Homo sapiens: one gene and its partners. The protein of the gene in region 2 purifies or fractionates together with the protein of the main gene of each other region. This does not show direct contact. Each region holds a gene or a part of one and is shown on either strand. Other genes may lie near its edges. The genes, in order: MAPK13, DRG2 and API5.

What was found.
Region 1: the proteins of DRG2 (region 2) and MAPK13 purify together in Homo sapiens (affinity purification with mass spectrometry; one large-scale study listed by BioGRID and IntAct). This does not show direct contact.
Region 3: the proteins of DRG2 (region 2) and API5 fractionate together in Homo sapiens (co-fractionation; one large-scale study listed by BioGRID). This does not show direct contact.

What each region holds. Positions count from the first base shown.
Region 1 is NC_000006.12:36,133,362-36,137,012, forward strand, and holds part of MAPK13 (mitogen-activated protein kinase 13), read left to right. Parts: intron 1-2,391; coding exon 2,392-2,500; intron 2,501-2,657; coding exon 2,658-2,687; intron 2,688-3,122; coding exon 3,123-3,170; intron 3,171-3,294; coding exon 3,295-3,409; intron 3,410-3,517; coding exon 3,518-3,589; intron 3,590-3,651. UniProt on the Homo sapiens protein: Serine/threonine kinase which acts as an essential component of the MAP kinase signal transduction pathway.
Region 2 is NC_000017.11:18,090,880-18,094,530, forward strand, and holds part of DRG2 (developmentally-regulated GTP-binding protein 2), read left to right. Parts: intron 1-2,933; coding exon 2,934-3,094; intron 3,095-3,651. UniProt on the Homo sapiens protein: Catalyzes the conversion of GTP to GDP through hydrolysis of the gamma-phosphate bond in GTP. When hydroxylated at C-3 of 'Lys-21' by JMJD7, may bind to RNA and play a role in translation.
Region 3 is NC_000011.10:43,314,957-43,318,607, forward strand, and holds part of API5 (apoptosis inhibitor 5), read left to right. Parts: intron 1-3,464; exon of another isoform or gene 3,465-3,526; intron 3,527-3,651. UniProt on the Homo sapiens protein: Antiapoptotic factor that may have a role in protein assembly. Negatively regulates ACIN1. By binding to ACIN1, it suppresses ACIN1 cleavage from CASP3 and ACIN1-mediated DNA fragmentation. Also known to efficiently suppress E2F1-induced apoptosis.

The DNA of each region.
Region 1 (3,651 bases), on a different chromosome or scaffold from region 2:
CGGAGGCAGAGGGGGAGAGCCTGGAGGTCAGTGTTAGTGATCTAAAGTAGGGATCTAAAGCAGAGGTGATGGGATGCCAAGAGCAGACTTGAGGCCCCATTTGGGAGGCAGGGCCGACACAATGTTCCATCTGTTGGGGTGCAGTAGCTGAGTGAGGTGGCAGAGGTGGAGGAATGGGCAGGTTCCTGCTTGAAATACACGGTAGAGGAAGAACAGATCTTGGGGGAAAGATAACGAACTCCATTTTGGACACTTTACTTTTAAAGAAACTGTGAACATTCCAATGTTTAATCACAGTTGCAAATAAATATGAACCTCAGGAGACGAAGGTCTGGGCTAGGGATGTGGATTTGTGCTGGAATAATCACCGATGGGTTATAGCTGACACCCGGGAACAGATAATTGTAGAATGTGGTAAGATAGTATTGATTCAGATATCAACATGAAAGAGAAGATCCAAGAGGATGAGCAGATGGAAGAAGCTGAGAGGGCCTGATAGGAGGCAGAGGAGAGTCAGCAAAGAATTGAGAGGGAGTTTCAGACTTGGTGAAAGGTTAGATCAGAAGAAAAGGGAGTCATGGTGTGTTTGTCGGGTGTTCACTGGTGACCTTGAGCTGAGCAGTCTGGCAGTAGGAGGGAAGCAGAAACCAGGTTAACTCAGGACTGGGAGGTAAGGCAGTGGGATCCAGGAGTGTGGACCGCCCTTTCTAGAAGTTTGGTGGTGAGAGAGGGAGAAGGGGTGGTCAGTTGAAGAAGCAAAGTCAAGGGAATGTGGTTCTAGCACAGAGAGGCTTCAGGAAGCATGTTGCCAAGATGAAAGAACCAGTGCCCGAGTGGAGGGGAAAGACACAGGAGGGGACTGGGCATGGAGAGGCCCCCAAGGGAGGTGTGTGGTCCGGCAGGAGAGGGCTGCCAAAATCCAGAGTCTCCTGGAGATGCCTCCAGCATGTCCTTTCAAAAACAACAACAACAACAACAACAAAAAACACAACCTATTACATAATTGTTTAAGGTAACATTCATTTTAAAAAAGTTTTAAATTTATTATATTCTAGAGATAGGGCTGGGTTGCCCAGACTGGAGTGCAGTGGCACAAACACAGTTCACTGCAGCCTCCAACTCCTAGGCTCAAGCCATCCTCCCGCCTCAGCCCCCCAAGTAGGTGGGACTACAGATGCATGCCACCATGTCCAGCTTTTTGTTTTGTTTTAATTTTTATAGATATGGGGTCTCACTATGTTACTCATCCTGATCTCGAATTCCCGGCCTCAAGTGATCCTCCCACCTCAGCCTCTTGAGTAGCTAAGACTAAAGGTGCATGCCACCACACCTGGCTAATTTTTTTTTTTTTTTCTGAAAGGTGGGGTCCAGGCCGGGCATGGTGGCTCACGCCTGTAATCCCAGCACTTTGGGAAGCCGAGGCAGGCAGATCACCTGAGGTCAGGAGTTCGAGACCAGCCTGGCCAACATGGCAAAACCCCGTCTCTACTAAGAATACAAAAATTAGCTGGGCGTTCTGGCGTGCACCTGTAGTTGTAGCTACTCAGGGAAGCTGAGGCAGGAAAATCGCTTGAACCTGGGAGGTGGAGGTTGCAGTGAGCCAAGATCACGCCACTGCACTCTAGCCTGGGCGACAGAGCAAGACTCCATCTCAAAGAAAAAAAGAAAGGAAGAAAGAAAGATGGGTCCCTATGTTGCTCAGGCTGGTCTTAAACTCTTCGCCTCAAGCGATCGTCCAGCCTCCATCTCCCAAAGCACTGGGATTGGAGGTATGCCCCTGGCCTATTTTATAATTTTTATTATTTTTTGTCTTTGTCCTGGTCTTTGCTTTTACTGTAACAGTTACATTTTGCTGGCCTTATCCTGTTGTGCAATCCCCTAAGAGGCTGCAGGAGCCTCCCCATCTCCCTCTTCCACCCTCCTGGAAACTGTTGTATTGTTTCCTTCTTGGAAAGGTAGACATATTGTTTGTTTGTGGAGCCATCTCAGCTGGGCATGACCCTCTGAGGGATCAAATATTTGGACAGAAGCCGAAGGAAATACTGGCAGATGTTTCTAACTCCTAGCTGTGGCTTTCCCTGGGGTGTGGAGGAGGGCAAGGAGAGAGTACCTTTGAAGAGCGGGAACACAGTTCCATGTGGCTTTCCTGAGCGCGCTCCAACTGCAGCGCTTACTCCGAGCTCTGCCAGCTGGGCGGCCCGCCACAGGGAGACTGGGAGCCAGGAGCCCAGAGGCCCGTGTGGTGATCTGGCTGGCTGAGGTGGAGTTGAGTTTTTGCACACTGGAGGGTGTCTCTATGACCCCTGTTCTGCCCTGAGGTCCCTCCTCTGAGCTCTGACCTGGGGCTGGGTGGGACCCGGCACTGTTCCAAGAACCCCTCATGCCTTCCAGCTACCTGGTGATGCCCTTCATGCAGACGGATCTGCAGAAGATCATGGGGATGGAGTTCAGTGAGGAGAAGATCCAGTACCTGGTGTATCAGATGCTCAAAGGCCTTAAGGTGGGTGGGGACTTGGAGGCTGGCAGAGGGGACGCCTTGCTGTCTAGACCTGAGGTTTGGGGAGGCTGGAGGGAGCGCACTGTTACAGGTCGGCCAGCCTGAAGTGCCTGGTGTGGAAGCTGGGCCATGGACTCACCCTTCTCTCTCTCCCACATAGTACATCCACTCTGCTGGGGTCGTGCACAGGGTGAGTGCTTTCTCTGCCATGGTCCTCAGAGGCCCCTGTCCCATCCCTGGGTATGGGGTTCTCTGGCAATCAAGGAGTGGGAAAGTTGGAGGGAGGGGACACTGCCCAGGAGCACAGAATGTGGAGTTTTCACACCCAGCCACGGCCCAGGAAGGCCTGCTCAAAAGAGTCACTGTGTCCCAGGGGACTTCATGGGGAATTGCTGCAGACAAAGTGAGCCCTGAGCTGAGTGTTTCAGGCTTCAAGAATCAGGAACATTTTAGAGCTGGGTGGGCCCTGAGAGAACACCTAGTCCAACCCTCATTTTACACATGAAGAAACTGAGGCCCAGAAGGGGAAGGGGCCTGGCTGAGGTCACACCCCTGGGTGGTGGTGGAGCTAGGACAAGCTCCATCTCTGCCTCAGCCTAGCATGCATTCTCTGTCCTCCCCCCAGGACCTGAAGCCAGGCAACCTGGCTGTGAATGAGGACTGTGAACTGAAGGTGAGTGGGCTGCAGGCTCAGCCCAGAGGCGGGATAGGCCCTCCCCCAGGGAAGCCCCTGGAAGCCGCTCCCAGAGCCTCCTCCCCTCAGCAAGTTCCTTTTCTATTTATCCCCTGTGCCATAGATTCTGGATTTTGGGCTGGCGCGACATGCAGACGCCGAGATGACTGGCTACGTGGTGACCCGCTGGTACCGAGCCCCCGAGGTGATCCTCAGCTGGATGCACTACAACCAGACAGGTCAGTGGTCAATGCCTGAGAGGGCGGTCCTGGGGCCATCTGGTCACTCGGTGCTGACTGACTGCTGGGCCCCAGACAGTCCAGGTGACACTCTCCCTCCCTCTGCAGTGGACATCTGGTCTGTGGGCTGTATCATGGCAGAGATGCTGACAGGGAAAACTCTGTTCAAGGGGAAAGATTGTATCCTTTGCTGGAAAAGCCAAACTCCATCTAGGGATTCCTTCCTTCAACAGACACTTTAT
Region 2 (3,651 bases):
AGGGTAGTCTTGAACTCCCAGCCTCAAGCAGTCCTCCCTTCTCAGCTTCCCCAAAGTGCTGGGATTACAGGCATGAGCCACCATGCCCAGCTGCAGAACCCATTCTTGACCATTTCTTACTGCTATCAATTCACTGATTCACTTGGTAAAATATTTCCTGTGTGCCTGGGCCCTGTGCTGGAGGCTGGGGATCCAGTCCCATTTCCTGACCTATCGGAGTCAGGGAAGTAAAGAAATAAGATCATTTTCAGAGTCGAGAAGACAGTAAACCTGCTCATGAGGCAGGAAGCAGTCTGGGGAAGGGCGGAATTTACTGTAGATTATAGCCAACTTTTATTGGGTGCTTACTGTATGCTAAGCGATGTTCTTAGTGCTTTCTGTAAGACTTCTCCATTATTCCACCATCAAAAATCTGCTGAAGTATGGTCAGGCACAGTGGCTCACGCCTGTAATCCCAGCACTTTGGGAGGCCGAGGTGGGTGGATCACTTGAGGTCAGGAGTTTGAGACCAACCTGGGCGACACGGTGAAACCCCGTCTCTACTAAAAATACAAAAATTAGCCAGGCATGGTGGCACCAGCCTGTAGTCCCAGCTACTCGGGAGGCGGAGGCAGGAGAATCTCTTGAACCCAGGAGGTGGAGGTTGTAGTGAGCTGAGATCGCACCACTGCACTCCAACCGGGGTGACACCAGTGAGACTTTGTTGGTGGCTCACACCTGTAATTCCAGCATTTTGGGAGGCCAAGGCGGGCGGATCACCTGACGTCGAGAGTTCGAGACCAGACTGACCAACATGGAGAAACCCCATCTCCATTAAAAATACAAAAAATTAGCTGGGCATGGTGGCGTGTGCCTGTAGTCCCAGCTACTTGGGAGGCTGAGGTAGGAGAATCTCTTGAACCCTGGTGGCAGAGGTTGCAATGAGCTGAGATCACACCACAGCACTCCAGCCTGGGCGATACAGTGAGACTCCATCTCAAAAAGAAAAAAAAAGAAATCTGCCTAAGAAGTTACTACTGTTAATAACCCTATTTGCAGATTAAGAAACTGATGCACAAGAAGACTAACTTTTCCAAAGTAAAATGGCCCCACTAATGGCAGGGTGGAGTTCTGACACAAGCTCTCACTGCCCTCTGAGACTGGGCAGGGGAGGCCTCTTTGAAGAAGTGACATTTGAGCTGCACCTCAAATGATGGTAAGGAGCCAGTTCCAGGAAGATCTCGTTGAAATGGAGAGAATCGCCAGTGTGAAGGTCCCAAGGAAGGAATGATGTCAGCATATTCTAGAAAAGGAAAAAAAGAAAGGCCAGGCCCAGTGGCTCAACCTGTAATCCCAGCACTTTGAGAGGCTGAGGCAGGAGGATTGCTTACAGCCAGGAGTTCAAGACCAGCCTGGGTAACATAGCAACATCTCATCTCTACAAAAACAATTTTTTTAATTAGGCAGTCCTGGTGGTATATGCCTGTAGTCCTAGTTATTCAGGAGGCTGAGGCAGGAGTTCAAGACTAGTGAGCTATAATCGTGCCACTGAACTCTAGTCTGAGTGACAGAATGAGACCCCCATCTCTTTAAAAAAAGAGGAGAAAGCAACTGTGTCTGGAATGTAGCAGAGTGTGTTGAAGTAGCCAGGAGCCAGGTAACATAGGGTCCTGGTTCTCAGTCTCAACGACGGCCTCCTTTTAGAGCAAAGAGTTTGTAACACCATTTACAGTCCTGAAATGAAATTCCCCATCAGTAATATAACTTGAATTTGAAAAAAACCAATATAATACCCTAATAGTAATATAAAGGAGAAGAAGAAAAAGGAAAGTAATTTATAATGAAAATGGTATTTATTTAAATACATAAATGCTGGAGTGCTGCCAGGATCTAACGAAGTTACCCTGAAGCAGTAGAATGCTCATGCCTCTAGGTAGAATCACTGGGGATGTGACAGCCACGATGCAGGTGTGTTGTATTGGCCACTGAGTTACACCCCAAGAGGGGCTGCCATGGCAGCGTGGGATCCCAGAATGGTGAGCAGCTCTAGGTAAAGTTTCAGACAAAGCATGACATAGTCTTCCCTTCATATACATAATAGTTGCATTCCTGGGAATTTCAGTGTATATTAACACTGTACAAAATGTCCTGTGTTTATATGTAAACAGAGCTAGGTTCTAGGCCTGGCGATCCTAACCCAGGTTTTCCCTCTGTGGATGCCTTTGGGATGTGACAAGTCATGGACTTGGGATAATTCTCCTCAGCTACATAGGACTGACTCACCTAATAGGGCAGCTGGTTTCCCTGCCCCCTGCCCAATAGATGCCAATGCGTACTTCACCATCAAAGTGAACAGAAAACATCTCCCAGAATTTCCAGAATGCCCCCCAGGAAGCGGTGCCCCCTCTGTTGAGAACCATTGGTGAGAACCATTTGGTGAAGTCTCAACAAAGAGGCGGGATTTTTTTTTTTTTTTTTGAGATGGAGTTTCACTGTTGTTGCCCAAGCTGGAGTGCAATGACGTGATCTCGGCTCACCACAACCTCTGCCTCCTGGGTCAAGTGATTCTTCTGCCTCAGCCTCCCAAATAGTTGGGATTACAGGCATGAACGACCATGCCCAGCTAATTTTGTATTTTTAGTAGAGACAGGGTTTCTCCATGTTGGTCAGGCTGGTCTCGAACTCCTGACCTCAGGTGATCCACCCGCCTCGGCCTCCCAAAGTGCTGGGATTACAGGCGTCAGCCACTGCGCCCGGTCTAAGAGACTGGATTTTATCTTAAATGAAGTGAGAAGCCAAGGGGGCCTTTTAAGCAGAGAGATTTTTTTTTTTTCTCCTGATCTCCTTGACAGCAGTTGCTTCCCAGCCAGCACTTGGCGACATGTGGGCCCTGCCTGACCCCTGGGCTTGGACACCCTGGCCACTCATCTTCTGTCTTGCTTTCCATCCTTTAGCCACTGAGTATCATCTGGGCCTGCTGAAAGCTAAGCTCGCCAAGTATCGGGCCCAGCTCCTGGAACCGTCCAAATCGGCCTCGTCCAAAGGAGAGGGCTTTGATGTCATGAAGTCGGGTGATGCCCGTGTGGCGCTGATTGGATTTCCCTCTGTGGGTAAGGTCAGTGATGGTCAGTGTGGGCCTCGGGGAGGAAAGCAAGAAGTCATCTTTCAAACAGGTGACCATCCAGGCTCCCCTCGCTGCCTTTCTGCTTAGCTCCAGGGACACAGAAGACCTGGCCTCCCCCAGGGTCAGATCCCAGCCCTTTATCATCCTAACATGGAGGACGCTCTTTCCTCTTGCCAGCAGATGGAGCCCTACTTGGTCTTCCGACTCAGTCATCACACACAAATACTTCTCGAGTGTGTATCTCTAGCGGTGTCATGTGCTGGGCACTGTGCCAGGGACTAGAGACATAGCATGAATGAGACAGAGCTCTGTCCCTGCCCACATAGATCTCCCATTCTTGAAGAGAAAGGACAGTAAATAAGTAATAAGGTGCATCCAGTGGTGAGGAGTGGGGGCTGGTGAGTGACAGGGTGAAGGTCTGCTAGTTACGACAGGTCCCGGCAGGTTTCTCTGGTGAGTGAGTATTTGGGCAGGGGCCTGAAGGAAGTGAGTGAGCTTGCAGAGTCCTGGGTGAGAACCTTCCAGACAGAGGGAACAGTGAGCACAGG
Region 3 (3,651 bases), on a different chromosome or scaffold from region 2:
TGTAGCAAAGCCTGATTTTCATGTCAACTTATGAGAGATTTATGATCAGTACTAAGTTTCCTGGCAAATACCTGTCTGGATACTTCTGAGACTGCATTCAAGTTTGTCAGTCTTGACTTCCTTCTAACTTTTACTTTGATTATCAACCTTTACCAGAGAGGTGAGCACTACAGGTGTTCTGATTGCTGCCACTACAGACTATTCCCTCCCCATTATTGTCAATACTCCTTTCAGAGTAGTGCCTTCTAAATATATAAGGGTAAACTTACAAGCCGTCTGAGGTTTTATCGGCTAATTTCCCCAAAGCAGATCAAATCCTCTTTTTGAACCCCTTGGTACGATGTACTTACTAATAATGCTTCAGACTTGTATTTTATTTTATTTATTTCTGTACTTAAATTATAACGTCTCAAGGGTTAAATCCTTTTATGTATTTATTTATTTATTTATTTATTGCTTCTCTTCTTGCACTGTACCTTGCCCTTCAGTAAGCATTTCTTTTTCATAGTTGAAGAAATGTATTGGAAGAAGGAACAGAGAAACCATTTACAAAAGAAAAGAAAAACCATTTACACAGATTATCTCTAATGGATAAAGGGAACTTTATCATACACACACACATACATACATATATGAGCATGTATATTCTAATAAGCAAACTGCAGATGACAAATTCTAAGTGCAGAATTATTTAATACCTCAAATCTTCCAGTCCTATCATCTTCTCATGTAACTGCCATGTTCTGCCTATGCGTTCATCCTGCCTTTCCCCCACTCTGCCTCTGCTACTCCTTCAGGTCTCACTCTTCTCTTGTGTGCTCCTTTACCTTTCTGATCTCCTTTTCCACTGTACTCTGCCCAGGGCTCCTGACTAGCCATAATAGAGCAAGCTGTGGCCCACCATTATTTAAAATTCTGTTTCAAATTATTATGAATTTACTTACTTTAAATATAGATACTTAATTTTATATTATGTAGTCAAAATCTTAAAAGTTAAAAAATGTATCCGACACCTGTTAAAGGACCATGGCAGTGGGGCTGATTAGATCTGTATAATGCTGAAACCCTGATTCCTCCTGTTCTCTCAATCATTGAGTATACTAGCTTTGCAGGGTTGGCGTGTAGGCTTCTTGGACTTTTATTTCATGAAATAACCACTCTTGTAGTAGGGTTTTTTGTATGATTAAGCTAAAACCACTGACCAACCAAGTTCGTAATCCCTCAAAAATATGTGGAAATATTTATTTCACTTCTCTGAGCCCTAGTTTCCTCATCTAAAAGATAAGAATAGTAGTAACACCTATTGTGATATAGACAAGGAATCACTCAGTCCCTGGTAGACCTTCAATAAATATTGTTAATGATTCCTTTTTATTTGATTCCAGATTTAATATTTTTTTCTTGGCAAAAGGAAGTTTTGTTTTAAGCAGGGTTTTTTTTTTTTCATTTAATTTTGGACAGTGTAAGGAGTTTCTTCAAATGGCTTTATGAGTAAGTTTGAGTTAAAGAAAATTAGATTTGTGATACCCTGCAAAAAGTAAGGGTGTCAGAACAAACTTTGATTTTATGAAGCCTGCCTAGAAGTCTGAGGCAAACCACAGGAATGTAAAGTGGTAGAGAAGTCAGCATGATTTCTTTTTTTAATGTTTGCGGTGAAAAGTATGTCATATACCTTTCTTTCTTTGAGACAGGGTCTTGCTCTGTCAGGCTGGAGTGCAGTGGCGCGACCACAGCTTACCACAGCCTCTAACTCCTGGGCGCGACCATGGCTTACCACAGCCTTTATCGCCTGGGCTCAAGTGATTCTCCTCCCTCAGCCTCTCCAGTAGCTGGGACTGCAAGCACACACCACCATGCCTGGTTAATTTTATATTTTTTGGAGAGACAGGGTCTTGATGTGTTTATAATACACTTTTCAGTGATGACTCCTGAAGACTCATATATCTGCATTTCATGAAGAAGTTAACCTTATTCACAGAAATTTCTGTTATTTGGGAGTTGTTCTGTAACTTTGCATCCTGCTTTATTTTTTCACTTAACATAGCATTATCAACAAAAAAGAATCACTGTAAAATAAATTTGGTAATTCTGTAGTTCATTGGATATTTATTGGTCATTCCCCGCTTGATGGCATGAAGTAAGCTCATGTGTCTAAAGCACTTAGAACACTCCTTATACATAATAAATACTATACTGTGTATATGTTTGGTCAAGATTATAATTTTTAAGTTGTTTTTCCAGTTACTAAGTTTTATTCATATGTCCAAACAATATATATGTGTAGTCTTTCTGTATTTGTTACTGTTATTTACCATCTTTATCAGTGTCATTTCATAAAAGGACTGGTTTGGAGGCAAGTACTTAAGGAGGATTGGGAACTTATTGATTCCTCCCATTATGAGTATTTGAGGGAGAGCACCTGTGATTTTTTTTTTTAAGGAAACATGAGCTTTGAGTGTATTGTTCCAATAAAAGGTTTAAACATGTGACATTAGAGTCCGTCTTAATCCAAAATTGTCTGGCTATATGGAGTGAATTGTCATGGCTTTCATATACTGCTATGAGGTAAAATTAAACTGCACTTCCTAACATTGCTGGAATTGCTAAATTTCTGGAATGTATTCCCTTCACCTTCTTCAAGGTGCTAATTAGAAACAGGTAAATTTTTGTTTAAGTAAATACAGTGCAATTCTTTGTGAATTCTATGGTATTCATGATGATTTATTTATTTACTTGTTTAAGATAGAGTCTCATTCTGTCACCCAATCTGGAATGCAGTGGTGCGATCTCAGCTCAGTGCAACCTCTGCCTCCTGGGTTCAAGCGATTCTCCTGCCTCAGCCTCCTGAGGAGCTGGGATTACAAATGTCTGCCACCACACCCAGTTAATTTTTGTATTTTTAGAGAGAGGGAGTTTCACCATGTTGGGCAGGCTGGTCTGGAACTCCTGAGCTCAAGTGATTGCCCACCTCGGCCTCCCAAAGTGTTGAGATTACAGGCATGAGCCACCACACCTGGCCATCATTACAATTGTTTTGTTTGTTTGTTTGTTTTGTTTTGTTTTGTTTTTTGGAGACAGAGTCTCACTCTGTCATCCAGGCTGGAGTGCAGTAGTACGATCTCAGCTCACTGCAACCTCCGCTTCCCGGACTCAAGCAATTCTCCTGCCTCAGCCTCCCGAGTAGCCGGGATTACAGGCGCACACCACCACGCCTGGCTAATTTTTGTGTTTTAGTAGAGACGGGGTTTAACCATGTTGGCCAAGCTAGTCTTGAACTCCTGACCTCAGGTGATCCACCCACCTTGGCCTCCCAAGGTGCTGGGATTACAGGCGTGAGCCACCACGCCTGGCCCATTACAAATTTTTTAAGCATGATACAGTCACATGGCCAGAGTTAATAATCACTAGAATGAAGAAGTATTGGCATATTAACAAACACATTTGCTTTTTCCACTTAAAATTAGACTCATCCATCTCCCCCAACTCAAAAATGAAACAAAGATGGAGGGAGAACGGAATTGGGAAGGTAAGTGTCAGTTTGAGCAGTAAACCTCCCAAAATCAGCTTTATTTCTTAGCCTGTGTAAAAATTTAAAGCACACTCTAACATGTTTGTTATGGTCTTTTACTTTGCTTCCCATCCTTCAAAATC